Regions from separate parts of the Homo sapiens genome. Here region 1 is linked to region 2. Evidence: fine-mapped expression QTL. A gene starts in region 2. The other region holds a variant in brackets. All regions are shown on one strand. Distances are between the middles of the regions. Region 1 has its middle 7.7 kb from the start of FUT5. Region 2 holds the start of NDUFA11 (NADH:ubiquinone oxidoreductase subunit A11).

Region 1 (5,367 bases), 25 kb before region 2:
TGTCCTTAAACTCTGTCACTCCCAAGCTGGGTACAGAGGTGACAGAGCCCACATTTCACCTTCAGGTATCACGACTTCCCTGTTCTAGAAATAATTTCCAGGAGGCCGTTTCATGCTGCCCCAGACTTTCACCGTCTCAGTTCCCAGCCAGGCCCAGGCCAGTGGGGAGGATCGACTGGCCAGGGCTGGGCCAGGGACTGCGGTCTCCCAGGCAAGCCATTTCCAGAAGGGATGACCTGAGTCTGTTCTCTGTTCATGTCCTCGCTGGGGGCATTGTCTGTGACTGATTAAAACATAACTCATAGAAGTTGGGTATAGTGGCTCACACTCATAATTCCAGCACTTTGGGAGGCCGAGGTGAGCAGATCACCTGAGGTCAGGAGTTTGAGACCAGCCTGGCCAACATGGTGAAACCTCGTCTCTGCTAAAAATACAAAAATTAGCCGGGTGTGGTGGTGCACACCTGTAATCCCAGCTACTCTGGAAGCTGAGGCGGGAGAATCACTTGAACCCGGGAGGCAGAGGTTTGCAGTGAGCTAAGATTGGGTCACTGCACTCCAGCCTGGGTGACAGAGTGAGACTCCATCACAAAAAGAAAAAAACCCAAAAAAACATAACTCATGGGGCTCTCAGTCTTGGTGTGACTTTGTCCTGGAGCCCCAGCCAAGCCTGGACCGGCAACGCTTCCATCCCACACAGCTGTCCTGTGGATGTGAAGACAGGTCCTGAGAGAGGGCGCTCACTACTCAAGTCACTGGGAGTCTCAATCGCACCAGGCTGTCTTCAGTTGGACAGCTGTACTCTCTGCCCCCTGCCTCCTGCTTAATTCCCAGTCATCCTTCAGGGCTCGGTGAAAACAGCTCCTCCAGGGAGCCTCCCCAGATAGGGGCTCTCTTGCCCTCCCAGCCAGATCATCCTTTCTACTGGCTCCTCCAACCACCCGTGCCCCTGATTCTAGGCTCAGGCCGCGAGGATCTCTTCCCTCTGGCTCAGATGAGCTGAGACTTGCTTGGGGGGTGCGGTGAGGCCATCTGTGCCCCTCGTTGGGGTCCTGGTCTTCATTGGACACCCCAGCTCCTCCCTCAGCCTGGGCTGGGTGGGTGATAAAGCTGTCAGCCTGCTGGAAATTTCTCTCCCCTTGGGGCCTAAGGGCTGGGAGCCAAGGGCAGCTGCCGCTCAGGAGGAGGGAGAAGGCCCCATAGGCTGGGCTGGGTGCACCATGAACCACATGTGAGATCTGGGGCACATGGGGAGACAATGGGGGGTTGAGGGCAGTGCTGGTGTTCCAGAGGGGGCAGGCCAGGGTCCCCCAATGTTGGCCAGGTGGCTGGTCTTCTGCCCTTGTGGAACCCAAGGAGGGTTTCCATGTCCCTCTAAGCCTCAGAGGAAATTCCAGAGGGAGAGAAAGAGAAGTTGGGAAAGGGAGCTGTTCACTCTGACATCAGCTCAGGGAGAGGCGGAGACCACGGGGGCTCCAGGGGCATCAGGGGACAGAGCAGCCTGTCCCCACACCTCTTACCCCCTGGGGACTGGGCCTGCCCCAGCCTGTTAGGAAGCCCTGGCCTGGCCTGCCGAGGGCCCCATCCCCCTCCCAGGACCCCTGGCTTGCAGCCAGGTGGTGGGGAGAGGGGCCCAGGTGGGTGGTGTGTGTGGCAGGTGAGTGATGGGCCCAGCAAGGCTGGCTCAGGCCCGGAGTCACCAGGGGGCTTAGCAGAGACTCTTCAGGCCCCCCACACCTTCCCCACCCTATGCCCCTCCACCCTTCTACCTGGGCCTGGGGGAGCCATCACAGGCACCTCTGCATGTCCACTGTACAGATGGGGAAACCGAGGCTTAGATAGCACCTGGGAGTCACCACCACCCTGCACCACCAGGTCCCCCATGGCATTCTCCAGAGAGCAGCAATTTCCCCCAACACTAGAATGTTCCAGATATCCTCACTTACAGTCAGAAGCCACCTGCAGCCCCTAAGTGGTGGAGCAGGGCTCTATGGGGGACTTGCCTGACTTTGGAGTTCTTGACCCTGAGATCTTCAGAAAACCGACTTTCACCTCTGGCAGCTGTGTGGCCTTGGATGAGTTCCTCAACTTCTCTGGGCGTCAGCCACCTCCTCTGTAGAGTGGAGCCACTGCCGGCACCTTCTTCAGGAGGTTGAGGTGACCTGGAAGGTCACGCTGATCCTCCCACCGCCCCACAGGGTCTCTGCGTACCCCCTCTACAGGCTGGAATGTTTGGCCTGGGTCCCTGGCCCTCTGCGGGCCTCGGTTTCCCCTCCTGTAATACTTGTAAGAACTCAGCCTCTCCCTGCTCATCTACATGGTGCTGGGGCCACTAAACAGACAGGGAGTGCGGGAAGCCCCAGGTGACGGTGACAGAAACCTGGCACCCCCTAGAAACCTGACCCTGGCCTCACCCCCGGGTCCCCTGGCACCAACACGCTGAGGTCTGCCCACCCCTGGTACCCAGGCCCAGCTGGGTTCATGCAGCTTAAATTTCAGCCTGTGGTGGGTGAAGAGGCGGGGGCTGGACACGCTTCATTTTCCAATTTCTAGAAATAAAAGCTGTGGGGCCATCTATTGTGGAGTGGAAATAAAGCCCATTGCAAAACCTTGTGTGTGAAAAAATAACAATAGCATTTACCTCCCTGCCCGGGGAGAGAAAATTCCAGGGAATACATGGGGCCGGGGAACAAAGAGGCCTTTCTCTCATTCTGGAAAGGTTTTGTGAAGTGTGCGAGTGGCAATTTTAGAATCAGAAAAGCTAATGGAGGTATTTTCTTTCTTTCTTTCTTTCTGAGACTGAGTCTTGCTC[C/T]ATCGCCCAGGCTGGAGTGCTGTGGTGCGATCTCGACTCACTGCAACCTCCCACTACCGAGTTCAAGCAATTCTCATGCCTCAGCCTCCCGAGTAGCTGGGATTACAGATGCCCGCCACCACGCCCAGCTAAATTTTGTATTTTAAGTAGAGATGGTGTTTCACTATGTTGGCCAGGCTGTTCTCGAACTCCGGACCTCAAGTGATCTGCCCGCCTCGGCATCCCAAAGTGCTGAGATTACAGGCGTGAGCCACCACACCCGGCCCAATGAAGGTATTTCCGAGAACGAAAACGGTTAGGAGGTGGTCTGTTGGAACCTGGAGGTGAAAAGTATAATTTTCTTTCCTTTTTTTTTTTTTTTCCAGACGGAGTCTCCCTCTGTCGCCTGCCCAGGCTGGAGTGCAGTGGCACAATCTCAGCCCACTGCAACCTCCGCCTCCTGGGTTCAAGTGATTCTCCTGTCTCAGCCTCCCGAGTAGCTGGAATTACAGGCACGCGCCACGACGCCTAGCTAATTTTTTGTATTTTTAGTAGAGATGGGGTTTCACCGTGTTAGCCAGGATGGTCTCAATCTCCTGACCTCGTGATCAGTCTGTCTTGGCCTCCCAAAGTGCTAGGATTACAGCAGTGAGCCACCGCACCGGGCCAAAAAGCATAATTTTCTTGGTTTGTTTTCAGGCGATGTTTTCAAGGTTTCTAAGCACCTGTCTCTCCATCGGCAAAAATTACAGCCAGTAGAGCCAGCGACCTGGGCACCTGGGCCAGCCCTGCAGGGAGTGTATGGAGATGCCACTCACCTTGGGAAGATGCACCAGGAGTTACGGTCCACTCTGTCCCTGTTGGCGTTCTCTGAAGAGTAGAAATTTTCCCCTACCCAGACTCTGAGAATGTTCCAAAGACCTCAATTTATATTTGGTATCCACCTGCAGCCACTCAGTCCCTCAGCCCAGCTGTAGCCTCTGGTCACTCCCCCTCCCAGAGGGAGACAGTGTTGAGATTTGACTTCAGAACAAGGGCAGAGCCTTACAAAAAATGAGCTGGGCATGGTGGTGGGTGCCTGTAATCCCAGCTACTCATGAGGATGAGGCAGGAGAATCACCTGAACCCAGGAGGTGGAGGTTGGAGGTGGAGGTTGCAGTAAGATGAGATCACGCCACTGCTCTCCAGTCTGGGCGACGGAGCAAAACTCTGTCTCACTCACTCACTCAATAAATAAATAAATAAGCGAAAATAAATAGGCCAGGCACAGGGGCTCACGCCTGTAATCCCAGCACTTTGGGAGGCTGAGGTGGGTGGATCACGAGGTAAGGAGTTCGAGACCAGTCTGGCCAACACAGTGAAACCCTGTCTCTACTCAAAATAGAAAAATTAGCTGGGCGGGATGGTGAGCGCCTGTAATCCCAGCTACTTGGGAGGCTGAGGCTCAAGAATTGCACGAACCTGGGAGGCGGAGGTTGCAGTGAGCTGAGATCGCGCCACTGCACTACAGCCTGGGCAAGAGACTCCGTCTCAAAAAAAAAAAAAAAAAAAAAATTGGTGAGGCGCGGTGGCTCAGGCCTATAATCCCAGCACTTTGGGAGGTCAAGGTGGGGGGACTTCCTGAAGTTGGGAGTTTGAGACCAGTTGAGGTCTTTGGAACATTCTGAGACTCCGGGTAGGGAAAAATTTCTATCCTCCAGGGTACTCCAACAGGGAGGGAGAGGACTGCAAATTCTGGCGCATCTCTTCCCAAGGTGGCGTCTCCATACACTCCCCGCAACATGGAGAAACCCTCTCTCTACTAAAAATACAAAATTAGCCGGGCGTGGTGGTGCACGCCTGTAATCCCAGCTACTCAGGAGACTGAGGCAGGAGAATCACTTGAACCCGGGAGGTGGAGGTTGTGGTGAGCCGAGATTGTGCCATTGCACTCCAGCCTGGGCAACAAGAGTGAAATTCCGTCTCAAAAAAAAAAAAGATCTTGTTTATTTCTTGGTTTGTCAGTGTCTTCCCCAGATTGGGCGGCTCATGGGGCAGGGCTTGGGTCCCCAGTATGACCTGGCACCCAGTAGGCACTCAGTAAACAGGTGCTGAATAAATGTCCTTGTCTGTGATGGAAGCTTGAACTCCCACTTGGAGAATTATAAACGAAGACTGAAGATCTTTGGACTCTGGGGCAGGAGTGACCCTCCCCCTGCCCCTTCCCCACCCCCCACCGACCACCCCAGAGATTACAGCCTGCCTCAGGGGAATCTGCAGGTGAGGTAGTCCTCACCCCCAGTGACACAGGGCAGGACCTCGCAGGGCTGGAGATGGAGGAGGCCGGGTGGCAGGCACAGGCAGGCAAAGAATGCTGCCGCAGACGAGAATGAATAAACAGGCTCCTTGGATGTCAGAGGCTGGGGGTGGGGGGACACTTTGAACCTCACGCCTGGCTGGGGATGTTTGGACAAGGCAGGCGGCCAGCGGGTGTCATCAGGGCTAAAATTAACCTCCACTTCCCGCTCAGCCCCTCCCCCTGGGCCAGGAGGGAGGCTGGGGCCCCGGCCATCACTTAAGTGAGCGCTGTATGCCGGA
Region 2 (5,367 bases):
GTAATCCCAGCTACTTGGGAGGCTGAGACACAAGAATTGCTGGGAGGCAGAGGTTGCAGTAAGCCAAGATCGCACCACTGCACTCCAGCCTGGGTGACAGAATGAGACTCCGTCTCAAAAAAAAAAAAAAAAAGAAAAAAGAAAAAAGAAAAATTTAGGGAGAATGAATGTCACTCTCAAAGACCCCGGGGCACCCTTGGAGGGCTCACAGAAGCCACTGAGCACCCCTAAATCTAAATCTGATGCCATCAGCGATCTCCTGACATGGCAACTCTGTCAAAAGTTCTGACCTCCCCTTCTAAGACCCTCTGGGGAGCACCCCCGGTCTCAGAGGCCCTTCACTCAGCAGCACCACACCCCGAGACAAGCTGTCTCCTCCAAAGGCCTCCTGAGACCGCAGCCCACTCATTTTGTATTCACACATGAGGAATGCACACACTCTCTCACATGAACACCAACATACGCGTCTTTCTCAGTTTCAGATCCTATCCCCTGGGTGGCCCCCTTCAGCCCTTTCTCTTGAAGACCCTCGATAAGGACCTGATGGGAACATTCCTTGCTTCAGAGACCCCTAGGAGCAGGTCAGCCGACCTGGACTTGCAGCCCAGCTTCAAATGACCCTGGAGCAGTTAATATGCTTCTCCAACCTTCAGTCCCTACCTGTAAGAAATGGAGACACAATAACGTCTGTCTTACTATTAATAAATATGCAAAATATGGGAGTGATGATTAGGTCTGCCCTAATTCAAATGCCTCCCAATGGAGCCGCAACTTTGGCCGGGCCCTGTTTCACATATGCTGGAAATACAGAGTTGACCAAATTGATTCCTCAGCTTATAGACACACCAGGTTGTAAAGACTGTTTCTTTGGGTTTTTTTTTTTTTTTCTTTTTGAGACGGAGTCTTGCTCTGTCGCCCAGGCTGGAGTGCAGAGGCGCAATCTCGGCTCACTGCAAGCTCCGCCTCCCAGGTTCACGCCATTCTCCTTCCTCAGCCTCCTGAGTATCTGGGACTACAGGTGTCCACCACCACGCCCGGCTAATTTTTTTTGTATTTTTAGTAGAGACGGGTTTTCACCGTGTTAGCCAGGATGGTCTCGATCTCCTGACCTCGTGATCCACCTGCCTCGGCCTCCCAAAGTGCTGGGACTACAGGCGTGAGCCACCGCGCCCGGCTGGTTTTGTTTTGTTTTGTTTTTTGAGACAGCGTCTCACTCTGTCGCCCAGGCTGGAGTGCAGTGGCACAATCTCGGCTCACTGCAACCTCTGCCTCCTGGATTCACGCCATTCTCCTGCCTCAGCCTCCCAAGTAGCTGGGACTACAGGCACCCGCCATCATGCCTGGCTGATTTTTTGTATTTTTAGTAGAGACGGGGTTTCACCGTGTTAGCCAGGATGGTCTCAATCTCCTGACCTCATGATCCGCCTCCCAAAGTGCTGGGATTACAGGTGTGAGCCACCATGCCCGGCCTATTATTTTTATTTTTTGAGACAAGGTCTCGCTCTGTCGCCCAGGCTGGGGTGCAGTGGTGCAAACATAGCTCACTAGAGCCTTGAACTCCTGGTTTCAAGTGATCCTCTTGTCTCAGCCTCCTGAGTAGCTGGGACTACAGGTACGCACCATCATGCCCAGCTAATTGTTTTACTTTTTTGCAGAGATGGGGATCTTGCTATTTTGCCCAGGCTGGTCTGGAACTCCTGGCCTCAAGCGATCCTCCCACTTTGGCCTCCTGAGCGCCGGATTACAGGTGTGAGCCACCGCGCCTGGCCCAGTTTGTAAAGATTCTTCATCAGAGGGAAGAGGACTTCCAGCTCCATCTGGGACCTGATGAGTCCCAACCTGTGGCTGAGAATTAAAGGGCATGATGCCCATGAAACGCTCAGGCTGGAAGGGGCAAGACTCAGATTTACTCTATAAGAGAATGCCAGGGCCGGCCGGGCATGGTGGCTCACGCCTGTAATCCCAGCACTTTGGGAGCCCGAGATGGGCGGATGGCCTGAGACCAGGAGTTCCAGATCAGTCTGGCCAACACGGTGAAACCCCGTCTCTACTAAAAATACAAAATAATTAGCCAGGCGCGGTGGCGTGAGCCCGTAATCCCAGCTACTTGGGAGGCTGAGGCAAGGGAATTGCTCGAACCAGGGACGTGAAGGTTGCAGTGAGCCGAGATCTCGCCACTGCAGTCCAGCCCGGGCGACAGAGCAAGGCTCTGTCTCAAAAAAAAAAAAAAAAAAGGAGAATGCCAGGGCTTGCGGGTCCCCTTCATTCCCCTGCAAGGCTACCCTCATAGTAGCTCCTGATCCACCTCACCTAGGACCTCTCTGGCGGTCCCAGTAAAAGCTTCAGGTGTCCCTAACCACCCAGCACCCCCTGACCACAGAAAGACCTCATCCCACCCCAAAACTTTCTCAAACATCTGTACCGCCCTCAGATGCCCCAATCATGACTCATGATCCCCTCTAACAATCTCTACCCCGTTGGAAAGTCTCGTGGTCCCTTAGCTCCTTGGACCTGATAATAGCCCTGTCTCACTCCACAATTTCCCCGAGCCTGGCGATAGCTTGGGACCGCCTCAGATGACCCCAGGGACTAGCTTGTCGCATGTCACGACCTCCCAGTGCTCCCCAACCCTGCTGGACCCCCTACCAACATCCATTTCACACAAGATCCCCCCCTACGACCGCCCAAGACACCCCGATGACAACCACGTGCGTACCCGCGAGACTCCCAGACCCGTTCGATCCAAACAGCCCCCAGTAACCCCACGACCTCCCTGCGGCCTCGGCCCTCCACCCTCGGGGCCCGGCCGGCGCTCACCAGCGACGCTGGCAATACTGGTGGTGCTGTAGGCTTTGCGGTGGCAATCGGTGCCATCGGGGATATCCCAGTACTGACGAAAAACCTTCGGCGCCATAGCCCGCAATCTCGATCCCGCACCACGGACCCCGCCAGCTCGGGAAGCGCAAGGGCAGCCGCGGCTGGCTATCGCGAGACTTCTCGGGCTGCGCGCGCAACCTTTCGGGCTAGCGGGCCGGCAACAAGTGAGCAACTTTATTGATAGGCGCGGACATGGACATGGATCGCGCGCACGCGCCGGGGACCGGCCTGGAGGAAGAGAGTAGCACGTGCATCCCCAGGCCGATTCCTAGAGGGTGAAACTGAGGACGACTGCGATCAGTGCAGACAGATTTCGCTAGTCCCAGCTCAGGGAGTCCTAGGTTAGGGACTACTAGAGGCGGGGACTATCTACTAGGGGAGGGGCCGGGCTCAGACTGGGACGGGCGGGACTCCAGTTGATAGGAGCAAGACATGACGAAACAATGACTGGGGGGCGGGGCATGGCGGGGATGTGGCCACACCCAGTGTCAGAATCTGCATAGCGAGTGGTCATGCCCTGTGGTCAGTCACCAAGCTGGAGTCTGAGCAGCGTGCTACTGTTTTGGGCCGTGGACAGGATCAGGGGCGGGGATTATCGGGAAAGTGACCAATGACAATACGAGAAGCTCAGCGGGACGTGGCCTCTGTTCACCCCGCGGCTGTCCCACGCCCTAGGCCGGATGAAGTACACAGGCGCTTGACTTGGGGGCGTGGCTAGAATTGGAGGCATAACCTAAAAGGGACTTGACCAATCTGAGACTGTATAAGGGATGAAGGGGCGAGGCCGTGCCTGGATCTACCCCTGACAGGCCACAGGTTCGGGGGGCGTGGTCAGGCTTGCTGTTTCGCGGAGTCCGGGCCAATCCTGGTGTTAGCTTCCAAGTAGGGAGGGGACAGTATCGAAGGTGTGACCAATCTTGTTTCCAGAGCCTGAGTTGCGCGAGCCGCCAAAGGATGTGGCCAGCCTGGGGGCGTGGCTGTCAAGATCTTGTCCAATCCTAGAGTGAGCCCAAACTCAGGGGCGGAGTTTCATGATCCCGGAACCGGTGGTAGTGTTTGGGTTTGAGGAGAGCACGACCCAGCCCTCTGGGGTGGGGTCTAGCGGGGTCAGCGACCAATCGCGCCGAGGTCTAGTGGGGCGGGGCCCTCCCGGGGGCGGGGCCTGTGCCAGTTCCGGGCCGCCTGGGGGCGTGGCCGGGCCTGTACAGCAGCCTGGGCCATGTCGGCGCCGCCGGCCCTGCAGATCCGGGAGGCAAACGCACACCTGGCAGCCGTGCACCGGCGCGCAGCGGAGCTGGAGGCGCGGCTGGACGCGGCGGAGCGCACGGTGCACGCCCAAGCCGAGCGCCTGGCCCTCCACGACCAGCAGCTGCGCGCCGCCCTAGACGAACTGGGTCGCGCCAAGGACCGGTGAGGCCCGGGGCCGGCCAGGTGGACTTCACCGAGGCGGTAGGCGGAGGCAGAGCCGAGGCTGGAAAGCGAGGAAGGGCAGGGGGAACCGTGTGCACTTGTATAGACGCTAGACTGAGTATCGGATTGATAAAAACACCAAAAAACTCGAATTAGTAATCAGTATGTAAAGTTGCGAGAAGTGACACAGGTGTGGACCTCTAACTTCAAACAGGCCCACTTTCCCACAGGTGCTGAGCGACGCAGGGACCACAGACCGCCCAGCGTAGGCATTGGGAGCCATAGCAGGCTCTTCAGCAGGGGAGGAGGGGATCATATCAGCATTTTAACTTTTAAAATTTATTATTATTTTTTTGAGACGGAGTTTCGCTCTTGTCGCCTAGGCTGGAGTGCAGTGGCGTGATCTCAGCTCACTGCAACCTCCACCTCCCAGATTCAAGCGATTCTCCTGCCTCAGCCTCCCGTGTAGCTGGGATTACAGGCGCCCGCCACCACGCCCGGTCGATTTTTTGTATTTCTAGTAGAGACTGGTTTTCGTCACGTTGTGCAGGCTGGTCTCTAACTCCTGACCTCAGGTGATCCGCCCGCCTCAGCCTCCTAAAAGTGCTGGGATTACAGGGGTGAGCCACCGCACCCGGCCTAAATTTATTATTTTTGAGGCAGGGCCTCACTCCTATGCCCAGGCTGGAGTGCACCTCGACCTCCGGAGCTCAGGTGATTCTCCCACCTCAGTCTCCCAAGCAGCTGGGACTACAGGCGTCCACCACCACGCATGGCTTATTTTTTGTATTTTTTTGTAGAGACAGTTTTGCCCTGTTGCCCAGTTTGGTCTTGAACTCCTGGGCTCAAGCAGTCCTCCCACCTCACCCTTCCAAAGTGCTGGGATTACAGGCTAAGCCACCATGCCTATCTATTATTTTTGAGAGAGGGTCTTGCTCTGTTGCCCAGGCTGGAATGCAGTGGTGCGATCTCGACTCACTGCAGTCTCACCCTCCCTCCTCAGCCTCTCAAGTAGCTGGGATTACAGGCGTGCGACAGCACACCTGGCTGATTTAAAAAAAAAAATCCTTTAGAAATGGG

The links. PIP is the estimated chance that this variant, and not a neighbour inherited with it, causes the effect.
Region 1: its variant is the best candidate, but not a certain one, in a credible set for the expression of NDUFA11 in spleen (GTEx, PIP 0.85).

What each region holds. Positions count from the first base shown.
Region 1 is chr19:5,875,536-5,880,902 of GRCh38, forward strand. No RefSeq gene overlaps it. Among named protein-coding and RNA genes, the nearest start is that of FUT5, 7.7 kb to the left of the region's middle. The variant C/T (reference allele first, on the strand shown) is at 2,812.
Region 2 is chr19:5,900,795-5,906,161 of GRCh38, forward strand. NDUFA11 (NADH:ubiquinone oxidoreductase subunit A11) reads right to left here and starts at 2,996. Exons shown (of 4, transcript NM_175614.5): 1 at 2,818-2,996. The coding sequence starts at 2,914. It overlaps VMAC (vimentin type intermediate filament associated coiled-coil protein), which reads left to right and starts at 4,078. Exons shown (of 2, transcript NM_001017921.4): 1 at 4,078-4,287. The coding sequence starts at 4,097. RefSeq lists enhancers at 2,428-3,074, 2,884-3,178, 3,752-3,871 and a silencer at 3,912-4,261.